Regions from separate parts of the Homo sapiens genome. Here all the other regions are linked to region 2. The links come from fine-mapping of genetic effects on gene expression. A gene starts in region 2. Each other region holds a variant in brackets. All regions are shown on one strand. Distances are from middle to middle.

Region 1 (4,091 bases), 33 kb after region 2:
AAGTGGTTGGAGTTTCCCATTAAAAAGAACAGAGCTTCCTACCAAAGAAATCTAAATCTATTAATAAATTTGCAGCTCTCAAGTAACTGAGTGAAATTGGCAGTCCAATTAAATATATTTACCTTCCAGTTTTTGCATGTTGTATTACTGACATTTCTGTTACACATACTCAAGTTGAATAGAAACATGTCAAAATGCCAAGTATAGTGGCTCACACTAACTGCTCGGTATGTTTTCTATCTCCCTTTTTTAAAATCTCATTTTAAAATATTAGACAGTCCTTTTGAAAGAAAATGGTATAATATCAAAGAACCACTGGGTAGGAAATACTATAAACGATCATTAAAAATAATGCTAGAGTTTGCAATCAAAGCTTCCTATTATGTCTGCTCTGCAGTATGATTTGAGAGGTATAATTTCGGGTATAACATGCGTTTCCCTAATTCAAGTTCTTTGTCTAGTCTTAGTGGATATTAACATTGAAAACCACTATTTTGAAGCATCTTGGTCCATAGTTCTCTTCCTTTTTGAACTTTTAGTCACTAAGCACTTTTGCAAGAGGTAAAGAGCCTCTTTAGGTTTTAGTGTTTTTCATCTTTAAAATGAGAATATTAATTACAGTGCTGTCTTCATCACATACTGAAATGGAACTATGTAGCCGACTACTAAAGGTACTACTGCTAAGCAGGGATCTACTTACCACTGAAAGACTACTAATGGTCTTCCATGATATATGTAAACAGAATCTTTTGTGAATCCTTCACCACACTGAAGCCTTCTATAGTCTACTCATTCTCTCATTTTAAAAAGTTTATTCTTTCCTTCTTTAGTTTTCCTGTTTGTTTTTTTAGATGCTGTGTACTCAGCCTCAAGAATACTTAGAGCCACGAATTGAGGGTTCCTCTTCATTTCTCCTTCTGTTTGGTTCCTTGTTTGCTGTTGTGAATAGCATTCCTCAAAAAGATGCATCAACATGAATGATGCAAATGACCATCCATTTTTGTGCATTATCATTTGCAAGCACAATATGGTCTAAAGTATTCTTAAGTTCCTGACAGTTAACTTTTGATGAACTTATAAGTAGCACAAAATATGTTCTTCAGAAATTATAGAACCACTGTAGTTTGAAATCTGTGTTCAAGGTTGTCTGGTGTTAATATTAGAATAATGGGTAATTTAAAGAAATAGGTATTCTTTAACTTAAATTGAAATGAAGTAATATTAGCAGTTTTCTCCTTTGCTTAGAAGAATTATATGTAGGCCGGGCGCGGTGGCTCCCAAAGTTAATCCCAGCACTTTGGGAGGCTGAGGTGGGCGAATAACGAGGTCAGGAGATTGAGAACCTCCTGGCCAACATGGTGAAACTCTGTCTCTACTAAAAATACAGAAGTAGCTGGGCATGGTGGCGCATGCCTGTAATCCCAGCTACTTGGGAGGCTGAGGCAGGAGAATTGCTTGAACCCGGGAGGCGGAGGTTGCAGTGAGCTGAGATCACGCCACTGCACTCCAGCCTGGTGACATAGCAAGACTCTGTCTCAAAAAAACAAACCAACAAAGAATTATATGTAAATAGCAGTTAATAACTCAGATTTTTAAAAAACTGATTTATTTATTTTTAGAAACAGGGTCTTGCTATGTTGCCCAGGCTGGCCTCAAACTCTTGGGCACAAGCAGTCCTCCCACCTCAGCCTCCCACCTCAGCCTCCCAAGTAGCTGGGACTATAATAGGCGCCACCACTGTGCCCAGTTATTTTTAATTAAAACTTATGGTTTGTTTAGTTATAAATAAAGTTGACATTTTAAAAAACAGACTAGTTTCTTGCTAGAAATACATGTTTATGTATGTGTTGTGAACATATATATGATTGTGTTTTAAAACAGATATGACCACATTCTGAAGTGGGAACTCTTCCAGCTGGCTGACCTGGATACATACCAGGGAATGCTAAAGTTGCTCTTCATGAAAGAATTGGAGCAGATTGTTAAAATGTATGAAGCATACAGACAAGCCCTTCTTACAGAGTTGGAAAACCGAAAGCAGAGACAGCAGTGGTATGCCCAACAACATGGAAAAAATTTTTGAGCTGATTTTTTAAAAATTTAAGTTTTGTAAGAGCTTTAAAATATTTTCACAGATAAAAAATTGCAAACAAGTACTCTGGTTAATAAATGCTGCTTCCTTTGTGGAAATTATAAAATTCTAACTTTACATGTATTTTGTTATTAGAAATTTTCTTTTATTGAATGAGAAAAATTAGTCTATCATTTTAAGAGCCAATATGGCAAACACTTTCAAATACTGTATATTAGGAAACTGTTTTGGTATTCTTGATGGAAAAAAACGCAGCGGAAATGTCATTATGAACAGATGTTAAATAGGAAATTATTACTTGTTAACTTCTTACAGCAGTAGTACCTTCTTTAAAAAAAAAAAAGAATCTGCGGTATTTTTTTAAAAAAAAAGTTTAC[C/T]GCTGTAGTGTGAAATATTGTCTGGAAAGGGATGGTTTAAATATTACCATGATGTAGTTGAAATATAAAATAGGATTTGGAACCTTATTGTGATAAATATTTATATATGATGTATGTTTGTCTCCCCTCTCCAAAGTAAGGAACCCAGCTGGGCGTGGTGGCTCACTCCTGTAATCCCAGCATTTTGGGAGGCCGAGGTGGGTGGACCGCTTGAGTCCACGAGTTTAAGACCAGCCTGGGCAACATGGTGAAGCCCCATCTCTACAAAAAATACAAAAAAATTAGCCGGGTATGATGGTGTGTGCCTCTAGTCCCAGCTACTTGGGAGGCTGAGGTCAGAGGATGGCTTGAGCCCAAGAGGCAGAGGTTGCAGGGTCAAGATCGCACCACTTGCACTGCAGCCTGAGAGAGAGAGAGCCAGACCTTGTCTCAAAAAATAAAAAATAAAAAAATAAAAACAAAATAAGGAATCCTTTTAAAGCATGTTGAGAAAGTATTTTTTGGTATGAATGGGTGACGGGCCTTTTAATCTTTCAGGAATACATATAAGCAGGAATACTTAGCCTGTATTGGGAAGGTGCGTGAAACTCAAAGTTGCTAACATCATCTTCCTTATTTTCAGCCAGTGCTGTTACTGCATTTAGCATGGCTCTGACGAGGCAGTGGAGAGTTCCTGACAGCATAGCATACTGCCTTCTGACAGACTGGGTTAAGCTACCAAAAATGACAACCAGGGATTCAAAAAAAATTTTTGGTCATTAAATCGAATGTATATTATTACTTTTTAATTTTCTAAGTATTTATCACAGGACTTTAACACCATATATTTCCCTCCCAGTTTTTCTCCCCTTTTGGTTTAATAGTTAAAACATTTTTCATAATTAGTGCTGTACATTTGATTGCAAACAAATTGGTGATACTTCTAAACTATAACTATAAATCTCTAGAATTCTGTGAATTTCAACATTATTTGAAGTAGTTCTTCAGTTATATTTACATGTGTTGTAAATATGTAAATATACTTTTAGCTTAGGAAGTCTTCCAGAATACAAACTACTCCCAGTTAGATATCAGTGAGTTTGAATAACTGAAGAAATGTTGACAATGTTAAGTGTTTGATTTTATATAACAAGCTTATTAAATATATTTTTGTGGAAACTAAGCGCGTGGTTTTTGAGTCCATGTTTTAGACATAGTGCTGTATTTCATTTTTCTGTTCAAAAGGCCATAGACAAAGGAATCAATATAATTGAAAGGGGTAATGAAAAGGGGTATTGAAAAATGAAAGTGTGGCTAGTGGAATTTTATCACTGGGAAAAGATAATTTGCTGAACTTGTGATCAGACTTTTCTAAGATGTCAGTATATATATCTTATGAACTCCCACACTCCTCTATCTTAATTGTTCTTTCCTGTCACTTCTTACTTTATATCGCTACTTAATTATGGTGTAGCCATTTCTGTGACAGTCTTTAGAAGTTTCTCTGTTTTGGACCTCCTAGATAAGTATTACTTTTTTCATTAACACACTTTCCTTCTTCCTCTAAGAAGTCTGTTCAGTGAAACTCCACTAGAGATTTTAGTCATTAAGAACTAGAAGTTACCTAAAGGAATTAGCATGTT
Region 2 (4,093 bases):
ATGTCCACTTACCTCTCCACCTATTATTGCCTGGGTCCAAGCCAGCAATAACTTCTGACTGATCTCCCTTTTGCCCTTAGCTCCATTGTCTACTCTCCACACAGCATCCAAAGCAGTCCTATGAAAACATTAACTCAGATCATGTCACTCCTCTGCTCAAAGTAACATTCCTTACAATGGCCTACAAAGCCCTAGGTGCCGTGGCTATTGTTACTCTCTAACTGCATTCCCCATTCGTCTCCCCGTCTTTTCCAGTACATAAACCCTCTTACTGTTCCTCCAATCTGCCAGGAACATGGCCACTTGCAGCGACTTTGCACTTGCTGTTCTTTCTGCCTGGAATATTGTTCCTCCAGTTAGCTGCATGGCCAATTTCCTCACTCTGTCACTTAACTCCAATGTCACCTCCTCATGAGCCTTCTCTGGTCCCTCTATTACCCTCTCAAAAATTGTGAGTCCTCTCTTATTTTCACTTCATCACTTATCACTATCTAACATAGTATGTTTTGCTTATTTTTTGTCATTTTTTTCTCTTTCCCATGACAGTAGGGATTTTTGTCTGTTTTGCTTATTGCTCTATCACAAACGACTAGCGCAGTGGGTAATGAGTATTTCCTGGTTAATGAATGAATTGTGGGAGATCTGCACCAAGGGAACATATGGAGACAGACACTAGATCAAATGTCTCCTTTGTTTGCTCATGGTAAAACATTTGACCATCTTCTTAATCTTACGTGGTAAAAAATTCCATGTCTTTTGTTAATTGTGATATATGTCTTAGATCTCTTGTGAGATGTTTTAGATCTCAGGGAAAGCATTCCTCATTATTAAAGCATTAATTTGGTCACTAGGGGATGAATCCAATCTTATTTTCCAAATGTTATCCTGTACATTTGGCAGTCTTGCTAAGTTATATAGAAGGAAGTAGAGTCTATTATTTTAGATAGAAAATTCCCGGTCCCGACTCGCAGTGGTCAAAGTCTTCAAAATTCTAAGATCATAACACATAACGTCAGGAGGAAATATGTGGCTATTAATCATACTAATGATAGTGATGATGCAATAAAATAATTGTAATATGCTAACACCAATTGTATCTTAAAAAGAGGTACTGGAAATTCCATCTTGCATTCTTCCGTTTTTTCCTGTTATAGAAAAACGCACTCCCTGATACTCAGTAGAGGATCAACTTATTTCTAGTTAATCAGCATGAACGTTTCCAGCAGAATAGATGCTTTGGTGTAGCACTTGCCTGGGAGTCATGGTTAGCATTCCGCATTTTTTAGAGAGCTGAATTCAGCAGCCTAGGAAACATTAGGAAGAACACCTTCAAACAGGGAACAACGTCTTGGGGGGAAAGAGAGTCACTGCCTCCGCTAGGGATCCCGAGGGGGTACAAAAGCAACAACAATAAAAACTCGTGGAGAGTAGGTTCCACGACATGCGCATGCGACGAACTCCCGCACTCAGCGGGGCAGGTTTCGTCCTTCATCTTCTCAGTCGGCAGGACCTGCTTCTCGCTGAGGATGAGTGAGGACAGCCGCAGCTCGGCGGGGACGGCCCGGTAGCCTAGAGCGCCGGCACCCGAGTCCCGCCGCCGGAGCCGCGCCTGGAGCCGCGGTGGGGGAGGGGCAGCGGCGGCCCGCGCTGCGTCGAGCTTCCCAGAATTCCCAGCGGCCGCGGGGAAAGTTTACGGGATGTAGGCGGCGGCGGCGGTAGTGGTAGCGGTTATTCGGCGGCCCGCGGCGGACCATGGCCCTGGCCCTGGCCCGGCGTCGCTGGGCTTTCCTCACGGCGTCCCCGAGCAGCGTCGCAGAGCGGGCCGACTTCCGGGAAGGAACTGACCAGCGACTGAGCGGCGGCCGGCGCGCTTAGCGCCCTGAACATGCGGCAGTCCCTGCGGGCGACCCCGGGCTCCGGACAGGCGGCGGCGGAGGCGGCGGCTCGGGAGGGAAGGAGGCGGCGGCGCCGGCGGAGGTGGCGGCGGAGACGGCCGGCGCCCGGCGCGGAGCCCTAGGGAGGCAGTTCAGCGCGGCCTCGGGCCTCGTCGAGAAGGATGCTGTCCCGAAAGAAAACCAAAAACGAAGTGTCCAAGCCGGCCGAGGTGCAGGGGAAGTACGTGAAGAAGGAGACGTCGCCTCTGCTTCGGAGTGAGTGTCAGGCGGGGCGTGCCCACACCTGGCCCAGGCGGCCAGGTGCTCCGGGGACCCTGGCGGGGGCGCCGGCGGGTCTCCAGGGCTTCTCCTTCGTCCTTGGTCGCGTGAAATACTGGTTTTGAGATTTTCTTGTGTCTGAAGTGGTATTCGTTGATTGAAAGCCCATAAGAGTAAGAAACTTGGGTTAGTCCCCCCCGCGCCTAACCCCCCCAAGAGCACCCCCTAAAAATAACAGACTTCCTCGCCCCACCAGGCAGAGTTGTTGGTTTTGATTACTGGAAGAGAGAGTAGGAAACATTTAAATTGCTTATCACCTAATGCTATAGGAGTAAAAGTAATTAGACAGGGACACTTTTTACTCTTTTAGATGCGTCGAGATGTGCGTCATGTTTGCAAACATTGCGGGTGTCTCTCGACTGTGCTGCAAGTTGTGCGAACTCTGGGGCAGAATTCCTTAGTCCTGCTGCCGGATGCAGACTTGAGAAGGTGAAAAGCATACCGTCGTTCTTGTAGCCGCCACCCAAAGCCTCATCACTCTTACACAGCAGAGCAGAGAGCCAAAAGCCTTTGTATTTGGCTATATTCGTGAGATTCCAAGAAGGCAACTCAAAATAATTTCTATCGTATTAGAGAACCCCCCCCTCGAAAAGTTTTTTTTTTTAATAGGGTAGATCCCACTCCCAATCCCCACCTCCGGTCCCCCGCTGCTTTTCTTCTTAATGTAAGTATTTGATTTTTGAGTTGAATCTCTTGAATTTTTAATTCTTGTGTGTTCAGGACATTTGTGAGGCATGGAGCTGGTATTTTGGTGCTCTTACTGCGCCCTGGGCCCTTTGCTTAAGTTTCCTTCTTGGAAGCTGGTAGTAACCTTGTGACTTAAGTATTACCTCATATTGTAATTGGGAAAGTTAGGTTTCTAGTATTTGCCCAAGATCACACAGATGGGAGAGCATGTTTTTCCATCATAACCACATTGTCAGCCTTCCAGATTTATGGTGGTACTTGCAATACTTTCAACAAAATATATGTCAGTTGAGTACATCAGTAACTCGAAACTTGATTTTTAAGTTGTTTTTTTTTTTTTTTAACAACTTGATTTTCAGTCACACATGCAGTTAGGTTTCTGGCTGTTTTTAAGTGATAGCTTGCTGTTTGCTGCAAATAAAGTTTATCAGACATTACTTGAAATCGTGAATTATGTTTGTCACACTTTTTATTATACTTTAAGTTCTGGGGTACATGTGTAGAACGTGCAGTTTTGTTAATGTTTGTCACAGTTAAGCAAATAACTTTTGATCTACTTTGTTTTGTTGTCGTTACATCAAGTGTTGAGCCTTATTTATTCAGATATTTGTTTCTGTCCAGTGTTAGTTTCTGAAGCTTATTAATATGAGTGTCTCCAATATTGTTTACTTGATGAATAATAAGAGGGTCTGCATATTCAGGTTTTTGTCTTGTTTTAAAGGTATTTGCTTTCTAACTGGGAATGTCTTAAGCTGTTTTCAAGTTTCGTGTTTAAAAGTACTGTATCCTAAAAGCTGTTGTTCTATTATCTACTATTTTGAATTATAATTACATAGTTTCAGGCTTGGTTTTTTGAGCCACTTCTACATTTGTGTGCTTCTTTGAAATGAGAGCTTTTTATTTTCAATTTTCATACATAAATTTTTGGCTTTCTAGCTTTTGATTACTGTGCTAGTGCTAGGTAATTCCAAGAGAAGAAAGAGCTACTAATTTTTTAATTTTTAAAGGAATCCACTTTTACATATTTGGGAGTAGCATTAAGTTCTATTTTTGAAATTGTGTTTGCTTCAAGAAGGATTTTTGGCAGTTTCTAAAATGAAGTGAGAACAACAAAATAAACTACTTAACTAGAAACTATCAATTTGTTATATTATTTCCTATTTTTATACATTAATTCATGAGCATTTCATTAA
Region 3 (4,093 bases), 96 kb before region 2:
TGTAAAGTGCTTAGAGCAGAGCCAAGGATAGAGTAAGCACTTACATAAATGTTAGCTATTCACATGGACACAGGAAGGGGAATATTACACTCTGGGGACTGTTGTGGGGTGGGGGGAGGGGAGAGGGATAGCACCGGGAGATATACCTGATGCTAGATGACGAGTTAGTGGGTGCAGCGCACCAGCATGGCGCATGTATACATATGTAACTAACCTGCACAATGTGCACATGTACCCTAAAGCTTAAAGTATAATAAAATTAAAAAAAAAAAACATAAATGTTAGCTATTAACATTATTATTCAAAAATTAGCCTTTCCTGATTGATCATTGCAGATCTAATCTGACGTGATTTGGTTTTGTCCTGTGGGTTTTTTTTTTTCTGAATACATTTTTTACTCCATTTATTTATAAAATGCAAATGAAACAGAAAACCACTCAAGTCTTAGCTAGTAAATCATTCCCAATTTCGGCCAGGAGAGATGGAAACATTTTTACAAGTAACAAGAATCTTTGATTTTAAAAAAATTCCCCTAAAGTTAGGAATTTGAATTTTTTTCTTAAACCAGAAACACGTGTTTATTTTAATGAGACAAATATAACTGAGTTCCAGCTACTTAGATAAAAAGTTTAATTGTGCAGAGATGAGTAAAACAATCATATTATGAAGTTACTTGCAGCCCTCCTTTTCAGGAAATATACATACATGGTTAAGAAAACATTTCTACTGCTTTTATAATTAAATTTTAGCTCTTGGTTCTAATTAAATAGAGGTATTTTCTAAATGTCTTTACATTTAATGAATTCATCAGTAAAAGCTGTCAGCTCTACCTTCAGAAATTCCCCCAGTTCATCCACTTGTTTTCTTTCTTACTTTTTTTAAGACGGAATCTAGCTCTGTCACCCAGGCTGGAGTACGGTGGTGTGATCGCAGCTCACTGCAACCTCCACCTCCTGGGTTCAAGCAGTTCTCCTGCCTCAGCCTCCCGAGTAGCTGGGATTGCAGGTGTCTGCCAAACGCCTAATTTTTTTTTTTTTTTTTTTTTTTTTTTTTAAGTAGAGACAGGGTTTCACCATGTTGGCCAGGCTGGTCTTGAACTCCTGACCTCAGGTGATCTGCCCACCCAGCCTCATCCACTTGTTTTCTTAACAGCTTTATACACTATATGTTTTACCCATTGAAGGTATAAATTCAGTCTTTTATTGTATTGACAGAATTGTGCAAACATCACCGCATTCAATTTTAGAACATTTTCATCACCCCAGGAAGAAACCCCTTCTCCACTTAGCCATAATCTCTCCCAAGCCCCCTAGCTCTAGGCAATTATTAGTGTACTTTGTGTCTCTACAGATTTGCATATTCTATACATTTCATATAAATGGAATCTTACAATATTAGCCCTTGAGACCGGCTTCCTTCATTTAACATAATGTTTTTAAAGTTCATCCATGTTGTAGCGTGTATCAGTTCTTCATTTCTTGAATAATATTCCATTGCGTAGATATACCACATTTTGTTTATTAATTCACCGGTTAAGGGACATTTGGGGGATTTTGGCTATTATGAGTAACGCAGCTATGAAAATTTGTGCGCACGTTTTTGTATGGGCATATATCTAGGAGTAGAATTGCTAGGTTGTATGGTAACCCTATGTTTAACCGTTTTAGGAACTGCTAAACTTCTTGCAAAGTGGTTGCACTGTTTTATATTCCCACTAGTATGATAGTTCCAATTGCTCCACTTCTTCACCAACAGTCGTTATTGTATGTCTTTTTGATTCTAGCCACCCTAGTAAGTGTGAAATGGTATCTTATTGTGGCTTTGATTTGTATTTCCCTGATAGGTAATGATATTGAATATCTTTTACATGTATGTATTAGTCATCTGTATATCATCATTAGAGAAATATCAATTCAGATCATTTGCCCATTTTTAAAATTGTCTTATTATTGAGCTATAATAGTCTTTATATATTCTAGTTACAAGTCCCTTATCAGATACTTAATTTGCAAAACATTTCTACTTTCTTGATAGTGTCCTTTGAAGCACAAAAGATTTTGTTTTGATGATATCCAATTTATCTTTTTTGTTGTTGTTGTTGCTTATGCTTTTGGTGTCACATCTAAGACCAGTGTTGGTTTTTAAATCCCAGGTACTACAAGACCAAGTAGATGAACTCCAGTCTGAGCTGGAAGAATATCGTGCACAAGGCAGAGTGCTCAGGCTTCCGTTGAAGAACTCACCGTCAGAAGAAGTTGAGGCTAACAGCGGTGGCATTGAGCCCGAACACGGTAAACACATTCGGACAGGCTGTAGATAAAGCCTTTACTCTTGTTTTTAGAAACGTGGTTCAATATAAAATTGCAAAGCTTTGGCAACTTGAAAAAAGAAAAAAAAAAAAAAGAATTTGGCCATACTCTTTTCTTGAGCTGTTTCACTTGTGGTCTCGTTTTTCATTTGTCCTTGAAGTTTTTATGAGAACATTTCCATCTGATTTTGATATGCGTCAACAAAGGAATGGAAGAATCAAACCACAAGGGTATTTGCTTTGTTAACAAAACAAACAAAAAACTGGCTGCAAAT[C/G]TGGGAATCCAGGCCTTGGGAGTGTTAGAATTCAGACACTGAGCTATTGCTGTCCTCTTCGAAGAGAGTGTGTAACTCATATGAAGATGGTTTTGGAGAGCAGGCCAGCCAGATACTACAGAATCCATAGCTGGTTTTCTTATACGGGCTGTGCTGAATGTCTGTATTGCCTCAGCAGAACAAAGAAGATAAATAAGGGCTGGCCTCCTGGCCTTTGAGGAAGATTTTGAGTGGCAAGTTTGGAAGGCAGAGTTTGGGAGCCTCCTGCATTAACTATGAGCTCCTTTCCTCTCTCCTGATAGCCTACCTCTTTTCTCGGGGGTGTTGAGTTTAAATTTCAGAGACAGCTCATAATCAGTTATTCTGTTATAAATAACTTTCCCCAGTGCTATTGGGGATAGGAGTGTCGTTCTTACACAGGTTGTTTATTCCTCCTCTTACTGCAGAATAATTAACAGATTGGGGAAGGAGGAGACAAAGAGGCCTTAAGACCTCCCCTCTGATTCTTAGCTCATTCCAGTCTGAGGATCTCATAATATGATATATCTCGGCAGCTGTTATGGACTTTTCCATAGATGGCCAAGTGTTGGGGTTGTTCCTCATGAGGACAAGAAGCTGTACCATCGTGGTGTGGCTCACACCCTGGGTGTTACTTCTCATTTGGGAATATGCCATCAAATATGAAGAGAAGACCCAAAGCAAGACTGCCAGTTGCAGCTGCTAGACATATACCCAAGAAAAGTTCCTTTCTTCCATCTGCCTGTGTATCCCCACATGCAAAGCTATTTTGGGTCCCACTGCCTTAAGAGATTAGTCATAATCTTTTCTTCTGTGTACAAGCTCAGCCCCCAACTTATGCTTCACATTTTCAGTGTCATTCTCAGTCATCGTCGTGGGCAGTTGCAGAGATGAGCTCATGCATGAGTTAAGAATTTCTACCCACAACTGCCTGTATCCTGGTTCCTAACCTATGCCCTGTTTTTTAAAATTTTAGCTGATAATATGCTAAAATTATGCTGATAATAGCTAAAATATGATAATTTTAGCCAATAATAGCTGATAAGATAAAATGGGGATCTACCCACACTCTAGGAAATTCATAGGAAATAGGCAGTCTTCTGTAATGCTGAGTGATGGGTTGTTGATAGTGTGACCCATGAAGCTAACTCCTCAGGGCATCGCAGCAAGTATGCTGGCCGTTCATTTTCCTGCCACATCGTCATTCAGTATTTGTTGGATGGGTAGGAGTCTGGTTGGTTTGACCAAACTACCTCATGCTATTACCTCAATTTGCAGCATTTGCATTAGGAGGTAGCTACCTATAAGCAACAATTTCCACCCCCGCCGCCCCACCACCTACTATTCTAAGAGATGGATTCTATTAAGGTTTTTTCCACTGCCTGTACATGAAAGAATCTGTTCACCTTCATTTCTTCTTGTTTGCCCTAACGCTTGAAAAGAGAAAAGACTTCTCTTGGCCTCTGTTATTTCCTATTAGTTCACATCTCTG
Region 4 (4,093 bases), 47 kb before region 2:
CACTGCAACCTGCGCCTCCCAGGTTCATGCCATTCTCCTGCCTCAGCCTCCCGAGTAGCTGGGACTACAGGCACCCGCCACCACGCCCGGCTATTTTTTTGTATTTTTAGTAGAGACGGGGTTTCACTGTGTTAGCCAGGATGGTGTCGATCTCCTGACCTCGTGATCCACCTGCCTCAGCCTCCCAAAGTGCTGGGATTATAGGCATGAGCCACCATGCCCGACTGATATATGCAACTTATTCTTAAATGATCCAGAAACAAAATTACCCAGGCATGTGCATACACGTGTGAGGGAGAATGTGAGAGAGTGAGAGAAATAAGGCAATGAAGCAAGGATTATTTGTATTATCATTGTAACCCTATTTGTAAGTTTGAAATGATTTCCAGTTAAAATGTTTGAAGTGTTATGGATAAAAAAATGTACTAAGTGTGGTGTCAAGCACCTTAATCTTCCTTGCCCTTCTAGCTACTCTGAAGAATAGATGGTATTCTGAGTAAAAACTCACTAGAAACCATTTATGCTAGCCTAACCATACACCTATAGTTTATTATGAAAAGTTCAGCACTGGCCAGGCACAGTGGCTCACGCCTGTAATCTCAGCACTTTGGGAGGCAGAGGCAGGTGGATCACAAGGTTAGGAGATTTGAGACCATCCTGACTAACACGGTGAAACCCCGTCTCTACTAAAAATACAAAAATCAGCCGGGCATGGTGGCGCGCGCCTGTAATCCCAGCTACTCAGGAGGCTGAGTCAGGAGAATCGCTTGAACCCGGGAGGCGGAGGTGGCAGTGAGCCAAGATCGCACCATTGCACTCCAGCTTGGGTGACAGAATGAGACTCCTTCTCAAAAAAAAAAAAAAAAAAAAAGTACCATATTCAGTGCTGTCTAGTGACAAGTGTGGTCACTCATCTTAGCACTATTTCTCATATCATTCCTTCTTTTGTCCTTGCCCTCTCCCCACCCCTTTGTCCTGATTCCTATGTATTCTCCAGATACTACATGTAAATTTAACAGTGTCCATGCAAGTCACAGTGGGTATAAGCAAGAACCAGAGGTGGATGTGGGCAGATGGTTGATGTGTATGAAAACTGGTAGGGTCAGTGTTTGGGAGTAAAGGCTTTTTTGAAGTGGAGATGCTAAAGTAGATTTGTTGGAAATATTTTTTCTTAAATGATGGTCAAAAAGCAGGATATTTAAAATAAGCAATTCTGAGGTAGTTCACATAATGGTGAAGTGGGTAAAAGAAAAAGATCACAAGACATTAGAAAAAAATCAATGATCTGAAAGTCCAAGATTTGGAATTGCCTTTCCCTGACCCCGCCCCCATCATTTCATCAAATCTGTACTTGCCAAGGTTACCATGAACCTCTTAAAGTTGCCCCACTCCAACCTGCTCTCCCCACACAGCCTCCAAATAGGATTCTTCTAAAATAAGACTGAATGTCACACTACTGTTTAAGAACACCCCATGTCCTCAAGTCTCCATTCTTTTTTAAATCGACAAATAAAAATTGTACATATATATCTTATGCAATGTTTTGAAATACATATACATGGCTGGGCACGGTGGCTCACACCTGTAATCCCAGCACTTTGGGAGGCTGAGGCGGGCGGATCACGAGGTCACGAGATCAAGACCATTCTGGCTAACATGGCGAAACCCCATCTCTACTAAAAATACAAAAAAAAAAAATGAGCGGGGCATGGTGGCAGGCACCTGTAGTCCCAGCTACTCAGGAGGCTGAGGCACAAGAATGGCGTGAACCCGGGAGGCGGAGCTTGCAATGAGCCGAGATCGCACCACTGCACTCCAGCCTGGGCAACAGAGCAAGAGTCCATCTCAAAAAAAAAAAAAAA[G/AG]AAAAAGAAAAGAAATACATATACATTGTGAAATAGCTAAATTGAGCTAATTAACATATATAACCTCACATTCTTATCACTTTTGTGGTGAGAATACTTAAGATTTTAAATTCTTAAGAATACCTTCTGATTAATTCATAAAGTAATAATTAGTGAATTTAGCCATACTAAACTCTGTTTGGCTTCTCAAAGGGCAACAGTATCTCTTGCTATGTTGTCTATGTATTGAGTAGGAGGAAAAGGCAGGACAAATAGTTGCTTCCAGTTAACCATCCTCCCCTTCCTCCTTAAAAAAAAGAAGGCTGAAATTTGACCATGCATGTTATTACCCAGCTATAAGACTATATTCTCTAGCCTCTTTTGCAGCTAGATGTGACCATGTGACTAGGTTTTGGCCACTGATATGCAGGAGGTCTGGGAAGACTTCTTAAAAGAGGGGATAAGCTGGCATGATGGCATAATCCTATAGTCCCAGCTACTAGGGAGACTGAGGCAGGAATGTCACTTAAGCCCAGGAGTGTGAGACCAGCCTGGGCAGTATAGTGAGATCTTGTCTCTAAAAATTTTTTTTTTTTTTAAATTTAGCCAGACACAGTGCCTGCAGTCCTAGCTACTCAGGAAGCTAAGGTGGGAGGATCCCTTAAGCTCAGGAGTTTGAGGCTGCAGTAGCTATGATTACTACACTGCACTCCTGCCTGGGCAACAGAGCAAGACCCCATCTCCAAAAATAAAGAGGGGGAATACACCTGTTTTTGTTCCTACTGCCTAGAGTGAAGATGATGATTGAAGATCTAGCAACTATGTTGGACCATAAAGATGAGGGCCACCTCCTATAGATGGCAGTGTAGAGAGCTGGAAAGAGCCTAGATCTCTGACAAATTCATTTAGCTATCATGTGAGGCCTCAATTCCTTCTGGACTTTACGAAAAAGGAATAAACTTTTAGTTGTTTAAGTAACTATTATTTTGGATTTTCTTATTATATGCAGCCAAACCTTATCCTAATTGAGACCTAGAATTAGTTGGATATCGGGGAAGGATAAAGTGGTCTTGATTTTCCAGCCTGACCCTAGAGAAGATACAAGATGTATGCAATTCTAGAAAAGATGAAGTCCAAGAAAGGTAGAGTTTAGTTCTACGGTTGGTTTCCTGAAGAGAACAGGGCAATTTTCACGTTTAAACGTGATACATCCACCTGGGGAAAGAAAAAGTGGTAGAATCTTGCGGGGGAGAGAAAGCAGCAGCAGTAGCCTGCAGTGGTGGAAGCTAATTAAATGCAGCAATTTTATTTTTATATTGATGCCCAGGGTGACAGCCCTTGGATTCCACTTTTCAAGCAGTACTAAATTGGCTGTACTTTGACCCTGAAATAAGACTGCGCTTGTCTTCATTGACCAGAGATAACTGGAGAAGTAAACATGTGGTATTGGGGAGAAGAAACTGACATTACTGCTCCTAAGATTTCCAATAGGTGTCTGAAAATGGGGGCTTTAGAAAAGAAGCCACGAGGTTTTTGCCCACAGAACAGTATGATCTGGACATAGGCACAAAGAGTTTTCTACAGATGTTCCCATCTACTTAGGAATAGCGATTCACAGTGGAACCTATAAGAGGAACCCCCAAACAAGTAGTAGACAACAAATGAGTACACCTTTGAAGATTTCCTTTGAAAAGATTATTTAAGCTTCTTTATACTTTCTAGAAGTACAAAGTACAAAATTAACTACAGGGTTTTTATTCCACTCCCTTCCCCTAGTTAGACATCTTTTCTCCACCTTAGCCCACAAGGTGATCACTTCACTGGCTGGTAAATTGTCCATTGCAATCTGTAAATGAGCCAAGATTGCTGTGTGCTTTGCTCAGGCCATTCCTCTCATGGCTATGATACCACTGACAGGGAGATATATAATATATATGTAGAGAGAATATATACATTTGTATATTACAGTATAATATATACATTTCCATATTATATATTTGTATATAATATACAAATTCAAGCCTCATTACTACTGATTTTCCAACAGATCAATCCCAAGCAGTAGGCTATAATTAGAAACAGATTAGACATTCCTTGTTGCAGTCATCTACCTACCTCCTGGCCACCTCCCTCACTGATTTTAGAACTTGGGTCACTGTCTTTTTCTCACTACTACCTCTATCACTACTCTTAGTGCTTTCAATATCTCATATTTGATATATTTGAATTGTGGAGAGAAAGATGAGACCACA
Region 5 (4,093 bases), 240 kb after region 2:
CCAAGGTGGGCAGATCACAAGGTCAGGAGTTCAAGACCAGCCTGGCCAACATGGAGAGAAACCCCGTCTCTACTAAAAATACTAAAATTAGCTGGGCATGCTGGCGGGTGCCTGTAATCCCAACTACTTGGGAGGCTGAGGCAGGAGAATCGCTTGAACCCGCGAGGCGGAGGTTGCAGTGAGCTGAGATCATGCCATTGCATTCCAGCCTGGGCAACAAGAGCAAGAAAAAAAAAAAAGATAGAAATGTTCTCTATCTGTGCTCTTAAATACAGTAGTGATTAAACATATATGGCTGTTAAGCACCTGAAACATGATTAGTGCTACATTTTCATTTTTTAGATTTTAATTCAAATTTTAATGTAAATAACAACATGTGGCTTCTTGCTCTCATATTGCACAGTGCAGGTTCAGACCATCATAAATCTTTTATTGTTTCCTGAATATTTAAAACTTGTAATCACTTTTAACATTTCTGTTCATTATTCCCTTTGCTGCATTAAGTGAATTATACTTCCCCCAATTCTTTCCCAGTCAGGAAGGTATTTGTGTGATGCGATAACAGTGTTAGATATGCCATAATTCTTTGCCATGTAAGATTCTGGGTGGTGTGTGTTGATATTACTGCTTTTGGAACTATTTTTATATAAATAGCTAGTTCTCACAGGACTTGTAAACTTTTATGCCATTTAATTTGCTTCCTTGTCAACGAATGTTTTACTCTCTAATACTCATTGGTTTTATGATGAAAATTATTACAGTTTATTATTGTTTGCATGCTCATTGATCATATGTCAGTATCTTCCCCAGGAGTGACAGAACTTGTGAAAAAAATGATGAATGGAAACATTTTTAAACATTTCATGATATGATTCTACCATAAATCAAAGGCACTAAAATGAAGTTGGTAATTTTTATTTGGGCCATAAAAAATAACATGTACTTTATAATTACATATTTTTAAAAACACGATTTTCATTACTTAGTTTTTTATTTTTAAGAAACATTTTAATATGTATTTCTCAATTGGAGTTTTATCCACAAAATGTTTGTGCCTCTGTGTGACATTTTACATGAAAATAGTTTGCTTATGATTGGGAAATTTAATTTATTAAAGCAGAAAACCTAAACTTTCTGTAAATGTCAGGACAAAAGAAATTTTGGAAACTAGTTTCTTCTTTTACTCCTTATATTACATGCCAATTTGGATTTAACATTTTTGAGAGAGATTCTGACATAGGAATCCTTAATTCCTCTTCACTTTCATTGAAACACACTGATACCTCAACTTTTTCAGATGTGCCAAATTATCTTCGTAATTTTAATTGTTACACAAAAGTTTGTTCCTCCTAGGCTACCATCTTTTCTTGCCAGTAAACCTTGGAATAATTACAGGAATCCTCCTGGGGAAAAAAAAATGCCTTTACAACACCTCTTAAAAATAAAATCAGTAACTAGGTTTTTTATTTGTCACAGTTAGTGAAACACATGTGATTTGTCATTGTCAAATACTTTTATTTTTATTGAGCTTAATTATGTTCCCAGAACATTCTTACATTAACTTTTTACAAAAAGTTAATAGTCTAATAAAACAGTTAATTTTCAGTTACTTTCCTCCATCACTTTTAATTATGCTTTTCTAACTCTAATACTTACTTGTAATGGTTAAATACTAAGAATTTTATGTAAGAATTGACTCACAGATCCTAAATATTCAATGTGTGGTTAAATGTTGGATTGTGGGGCAGGTTTATTTTATTTTATTTTTTATTTATTTATTTTGTTTGAGACGGAGTCTCGCTCTGTCGCCCAAGCTGGAGTGAAGTGACGTGATCTCGGCTCACTGCAGCCTCCACCT[G/C]TGGGGTTCAAGCAATTCTCCCGTTTCAGCGTCCTGAGTAGCTGGGGCTACAGGCACAGGCCACCACACCTGGCTAATTTTTGTATTTTTGTAGAGACAGGGTTTCACCATACTGGTCAGGCTGGTCTCCATCTCCTGACCTCAGGTGATCCACCCACCTCGGCCTCCCAAAGTGCTGAGGTTACAGGGATGAGCCACTGCGCCCGGCCAGGTTTATTTTTTAAAATTTCTTTTGTTACAGGGAAAATATGAACATAAAAAATGCTTGTTTAAAGCTACTTCTGAATATGTAACAGTATTTAAACAACAATGCTTTTAATGCAAAAACCCAGTTATATATGTTTTTATGATTTTATTCATTTAAGACAAAAGATACACTGTATCTTTTGTATGAAAGAAATGAATATGCCAACATCCACCTTATCAGAAGTTAGTTCATGTTTAAATGAATGGCTTTTATATGTATCTTTGAAGACTTGCATAACCCTACCTCAGTAAATTACTTGAACTTAGGCATGTCTTAGCCACAAAAATGTTGAGAAATCGTGGTCTAGACAGTGGAATTTTGCACTAGACACTTGAATAGGCTTATATTATTTATTAAAAGTAGAGAAAATTTATAGTGAAATGCTCTGTGCTTTATATTAGTTTCACTTCTCCCTTATCATTTTTAGTATGCCTTCAAGACAGTGTGTTGGCTTTCTGGAAACATGGGATGCAGGGTAAAAGCTTCAAGTCAGATGAGGTAAGCCTTCTCAGATTACCTCCACTGACTCCCACTAACAATTTTAAATGTCGAAGCACTCGTTTTATGCATTTCCTCTCTGAACCTACATTACTGTGTTTAGTGCTTTTAATACTATGAACTGGTAGAACAAAAAAGCCAGTATTTTCCCTTCAACTATGTTCACTTCTGTATCATAGTTCAAAATTCTCAGTGGCCACCAGGAATTGCAAAATATAAGTTCATGCAATTTCATTTATCTAATTTGTAATTTGTAAATATGGTTGCTAAGCTTGTAAAACTTTTCTAAATTTATTAAGTGTTTTCCATAATCTATAAATATCTGGCTTCTTTTTAAATATATTTTAAAATCTAAATTAATACATAATGGAGCATAAGAATAAGGGAATCTAAGAAAATTGACTCATTTAGTAACTATTGAGTACCAACTATGTTCAAGACACTATTATTGTAAATAATATCAAACTTTAAATAATACCTACTGTGTTCCAGGCACTTTACAAATATTTGCTTATTTCAGGCTCAAAATAATCCAGTAGAAGTAGATACTATTCATATTGCCATTTTTACAGCTACAGAGTGGTTAAGTAACTTGCCCAGAGTTACATAACTAGTGAAGTGGAAGAGTCTGGATTTGAAGGGTCTCTTTAAATCACTTCTAGCTGAGATAATTACGTCTCATGCAGGAGATGGGATTTGGGCCTCCAATTTGAGGAATGAGTCCTACTAGCTAAGATAATACTAACAGAGACATTTCACATTTACGTGAATACTTGTGTGATTCTTCTAACTATGGCCTAACAAGTTTGTGAACTTACTTAAAGCTCAAAAACTTCTTCTGTTTGCATTTACCTTTAGTTTTATCCACACTCTTACTTATATATAAATGAATATTCCTACCTCTTATATGAATGCAGAATTAGAATGCTTCCAGGAGGAAATGACATAAATCAGCTGTCTTTGAATATATAAGTTTATCTAGTTACTGATACGTGTCACTAAATGTCACCAAGTCCCTGCACTTGATGAAACCTACAGTCCTACTTATTATCATATGGTTAATTATTCTTAAATGCTATTTTCATTATGTCACTCCTATGGTTAGAAATCTACAGAAGGTCCTTGTTTCTTACTGTATCAAATATTGATTCCATTTCCGAAATATCTATTTTTAACTCTTTTTTTTTTTTTTTTTTTGAGATGGAGTCTCACACTGTCGCCCAGGCTGGAGTGCAGCGGCACAATCTCAGCTCACTGCAACCTCCACCTCCTGGGTTCAAGCGATTCTCCTGCCTCGGCCTCCTGAGTAGCTGGGATTACAGGCATGCACCAACACACCCAGCTAATTTTTGTATTTTTAGTAGAGATGGGATTTCACCGTGTTGGCCAGGCTGGTCTCGAACTTCTGACCTCACGTGATCCACCTGCCTTGGCCTCCCAAAGTGCCGGGATTACAGATGTGAGCCCCACACCCGGCCTATTTTTAATTC
Region 6 (4,093 bases), 26 kb after region 2:
GCACCCAATCAGTGTTTATTCAACTACTGAGGTTGTTGTCCTTTGAAAGAATCAAACCTGTGGTGTGGTCATCAGGTGGCAATGATTGTTGCAGTCCAGATAACCAGATTTGAGAGTTTACTTTTCTGTTCGTTGACATGGTTTGGCTCTGTGTCCTCACCCAAATCTCATCTCAAATCGTAATCCCCATGTATCAAGGGAGGGACCTGGTGGGAAGTGATTGAATCATGGGGGCCATTTCCCCCATGTTGTTCTGGTAGTGAGTTCTCATGAGATCTGATAGTTTAAAAGTGTGTGGCAGTTCCCCCTTCTTTCTCTCTCCTGCCACCACGTAAGATGTGCCTTGCTTCCCCTTCATCTTCTGCCATGATTTAAGTTTCCTGAGGCCTCCCAATTATGGAACTGTGGGTCAATTAAACCTCTTTTCTTTATAAATTACCCAGTTTCAGGTAATTCTTTATAACATTGTGAAAATAGACTAATACAATCATCATTAACCTTATGTTATTACAGAATTTTAATAGTTTTTTAAAAGCAATTTCATAATTAGTTAATTTACTTCTCTCAGCAACTTGGTAGAAGTTGAACAAGAGAGAATAAACGCTGCCCTTAAGCTCACATATGTAGTATTACTAGTTGTCTGGTTGTCTATCTTAGGCCAATCCTTATACAAAATTCTTGACTTACATTAGGTCATTTAATCCTGAGAACAACCACCTGTGGTATGAATTTATTATTCCACTTTTACAAGTATGGAGGCTGAGGCTTAGGGATAGGAGGAGTTTTGCTTACATTTACATAGTTTGTAAGTGTTAAAGCTGTGGTTCAAATCCAGGCGTACCTGACTTCAAAGTCCCAATTCTTCTTCACCCCCAGTTGTACTATCAAAGAACATTTTCCTTTGAACCTATTTAGGAAAGAAGAGTTGAAGATAGAATTCAGTTCCATTTGCATATTGATCTTTTAAAATTGTTAACCACAGCATAATCTAACCTTATTTTAATCCCAGTTTAGTAAACAGTGACCTTTTCTAATATACACATGCATTTTTTTCTCCCCATTGTTATATATACACCACATTTTCTTTTTTTTCTCCCTAACTTTTATTTTAGGTTCAGGGGTACATGTGCAGGTTTGTTACATGGGTAAATTGCATGGCTTGGGGATTTGGTACAGATTATCACCCGGGTAATAAGCATAGTGTCTGATAGGTAGTTTTTCTTTTCTTTTTTTTTTTTTTTCTGAGACGGAGTTTCACTTTTGTTGCCAAGGCTGGAGTGCAGTGGCGCGATCTCAGCTCACCTCAACCTTCGCCTCCCAGGTTCAAGCAATTCTCCTGCCTCAGCCTTCCAAGTAGCTGGGATTACAGGCATGCATCATGAAGCCTGGTTAAGTTTTGTATTTTTAGTAGAGACGGGGTTTCTGCATGTTGGCCAGGCTGGTCTCGAACTCCCGACCTCAGGTGTGAGCCATCACGCCCGGTCCCTGATAGGTAGTTTTCAATCCTCATGCTTCTCCCATCCTCTGCCCGCAAGTAGGCCTCAATGTTTATTGTTCCCTTCTTTGTGTCCATGTGTACTCAGTGTTTAGCTCCTACCTATCAACATGTGGTATTAGTTTTCTCTTCCTGC[A/C]TTAATTCACTTAGGATAATGGCCTCCAGTTCCATCAGTGTTGCTGCAGACTACATGCTCTTGTTCTTTTTTATGGCTGGGTAGTATTCCATGGTGTCTGCATACCACATTTTCTTTATCCAGCCCACCATTGATGGGCATTTAGGTTGATACCGTATCTTTGCTATTGTGAATAGTGCTGCAATTAACATGTGCACACGTGTTTCTTTATGGTAGAATGATTTCTATTCCTTTGTAGAAATAGTCCCATTAATGGGACTGCTGGATTGAATGATAGTTCTAAGTTCTTTGAGAAGTCTCCCAACTGCTTTCCACTGTGACTGAACTAATTTATGTTCCCACCAGCAGTGTATAAGCATTCATTTTTCTTTGCAACCATACCAGCATCTGTTATTTTTTGACTTTTTAATAATAGCCATTCTGATTGATGTGGAATGGTATTTATTTCATTGTGCTTTTGATTTGCATTTCTCTAATAAGCAGTGATGTTGAGCATTTTCTCATATGCTTGTTGGCCACATATACACATAAATCTTTATGTTTGAAGGTGCAGACCCCTTTTGGTCTCAAATAGACCCTTTTGGCCGCTTCGAGTTCAGCTATTAACCTTCAGGTGGTTCAGTGCTTTCCTTACACTTTCCCATATAATATCTCCACTCCCCACAGCATACACAGGCTATTAGAACTAAAGTATGGTCTTTTTTTTTTTTAATCTCTGTGACTTAAAATAGGTTCTGATCAACTCTGACTCCCATATGTTCTCTTGAGTTGGTAAAAGTTGAAAAGTTATCTGCATTGGATAGAGATATTTCAAACACAATACTCACTGCTGCGTCACTACATATCCTAACCCCCATTTTCAGCCTACGGGAGGAAGGAAACATCCTTTCTTAGAAACTGTCAACCTTTCTGATATGAATTTACAGCTGATGACTATTTCTTGTGGGAATTTACTATTCTAGTTTTAAGCCTTTGTATAAAGGTTAAAACTTAGTTCCAGCTTTTTCATATCCTCCTTTGAACCTGTTTTTGAAAAGACTAAATACCAGCCAGAAGAAATATCTTAAAAATACATTACCTTTCAGGTGGTGTAAGTCAGTTTGGACAGAAGGCACACTGAAAAATGCTTAAGTATTATTTGTTCTTTATAATTTCTTGTTTAGATTTTAAGACCTTTATCCTAAAGAATGTCACTCCTTTCTTCTTAGTGTACCTCGGTATGATCAACCACCTCCTGTCACATACCAGCCACAGCAAACTGAAAGAAATCAGTCCCTTCTGGTACCTGCAAATCCATATCATACTGCAGAAATTCCTGACTGGCTTCAGGTTTACGCACGAGCCCCTGTGAAGTAAGTACATTTACAACACAAATTTGTTTGAGGAGTGAGTGAAGGGCTGAATGGAGTCTCTGGGCTGCTCGATCCAAGTAGTGTGCCATATTTTACTCTTAATAATATTCGGCTTCTAAGTAATACGTGACTTGAATAAAGGATGTCATAGTTTATAATGTGTGAAAATCATTAATTAGAAATATTAGTTCTTCAGACATTTATAGAATCTTCATTTCTTTGTGTGCGGGCCTCTGCTATTAGGGATACAAGTAAGAAACTTACATTCTCATAGGAGAAGATTAATTTGTAAATAAGTGATACAGTACTTGTGATAAAAGTAAGGACCTGGGCTTGGCACAGTGGCTCACACCTGTAATCCCAGCACTTCGGGAGGCTGAGGCAGGAGGATCTCTTAAGTCCAGGAGTTCGAGACCAGTCTAGGCAACATAACGAGAGCCCCATTTCCACAGAAAAATTTTAAAAATTAGCCAGGCTTTTTGCATGGTCTGTAGTCCCAAGTACTTGGGAGGCTGAGGTGGGAGGATAGCTTGATCTGAGGAGTTCAAGTTCAGCCTGAGCAACATAGCAGGACTCTGTCTCTATAAAAAATTTAAAAATTAGCAGCATGCTGTGGTGTATGCCTGTGATCTCAGCTACTTGGGAGGCTAAGGTGGGAGGACTGCTTGAGCCCAGGAGTTTGAGGCCGCAGTGAGCTATGCTTGTGCCACTGCACTCCAGCCTGGGTGACAGAGCATGAGAGACCCTGACTGCCCCCCTACTAGTGCCAGAAAAAGGAATGATAGCAGATGGCATTTTCTTTCCTATTTTCCTCTTTTCTTTGTCCCTTGATACCACCTGACCTACAGCTGTATGTTTGTATGCTGATTCTAAATAGTACATAATATCTGTATGCGTTTTTATTTTCCTTAAATCTGGAAGAATATGTGCCTAACTGTTAACCTTAGTATTTCTGGGGGTGGATATGGTTGAGGAGAGTTATTCTTTCTGTTGTATGTTATTTCTACTCTATAGTCATGTTTAATAAGAAATAGCATAATCTTTCCTTTTTGGGGGAAGAGATAGTACTTAAATGGAATTCCTGGTTTCTTACAGAAAGAAACAGATTCC

Which allele goes with the higher level. Alleles are on the strand shown, and positions count from the first base shown. SD is a standard deviation of normalised expression in the study named. Not every link is listed here.
With allele C in place of G in region 3, the expression in fibroblasts of the gene that starts at base 1,718 in region 2 is higher (small effect, 0.21 SD a copy in GTEx).

Evidence for each region.
Region 1: its variant is fine-mapped to the expression of SAV1 in whole blood (INTERVAL, PIP 0.99).
Region 3: its variant is fine-mapped to the expression of SAV1 in fibroblasts (GTEx, PIP above 0.99).
Region 4: its variant is fine-mapped to the expression of SAV1 in whole blood (INTERVAL, PIP above 0.99).
Region 5: its variant is fine-mapped to the expression of SAV1 in whole blood (TOPMed, PIP 0.97).
Region 6: its variant is fine-mapped to the expression of SAV1 in whole blood (TOPMed, PIP 0.98).

The regions. Positions count from the first base shown.
Region 1 is chr14:50,633,175-50,637,265 of GRCh38, reverse strand. SAV1 (salvador family WW domain containing protein 1) reads left to right here. Exons shown (of 5, transcript NM_021818.4): 5 at 1,882-3,686. The coding sequence ends at 2,083. Among named protein-coding and RNA genes, the nearest start is that of SAV1, 33 kb to the left of the region's middle. The variant C/T (reference allele first, on the strand shown) is at 2,470.
Region 2 is chr14:50,665,931-50,670,023 of GRCh38, reverse strand. SAV1 (salvador family WW domain containing protein 1) reads left to right here and starts at 1,718. Exons shown (of 5, transcript NM_021818.4): 1 at 1,718-2,150. The coding sequence starts at 2,057. RefSeq lists silencers at 1,481-2,050, 2,161-2,290 and an enhancer at 2,651-2,720.
Region 3 is chr14:50,762,024-50,766,116 of GRCh38, reverse strand. NIN (ninein) reads left to right here. Exons shown (of 31, transcript NM_020921.4): 15 at 2,153-2,291. Among named protein-coding and RNA genes, the nearest start is that of NIN, 67 kb to the left of the region's middle. The variant C/G (reference allele first, on the strand shown) is at 2,584.
Region 4 is chr14:50,713,264-50,717,356 of GRCh38, reverse strand. No RefSeq gene overlaps it. Among named protein-coding and RNA genes, the nearest start is that of SAV1, 47 kb to the right of the region's middle. The variant G/AG (reference allele first, on the strand shown) is at 1,863.
Region 5 is chr14:50,424,417-50,428,509 of GRCh38, reverse strand. MAP4K5 (mitogen-activated protein kinase kinase kinase kinase 5) reads left to right here. Exons shown (of 33, transcript NM_006575.6): 31 at 2,533-2,603. Among named protein-coding and RNA genes, the nearest start is that of CDKL1, 30 kb to the right of the region's middle. The variant G/C (reference allele first, on the strand shown) is at 1,859.
Region 6 is chr14:50,639,640-50,643,732 of GRCh38, reverse strand. SAV1 (salvador family WW domain containing protein 1) reads left to right here. Exons shown (of 5, transcript NM_021818.4): 4 at 2,840-2,983. Among named protein-coding and RNA genes, the nearest start is that of SAV1, 27 kb to the left of the region's middle. The variant A/C (reference allele first, on the strand shown) is at 1,632.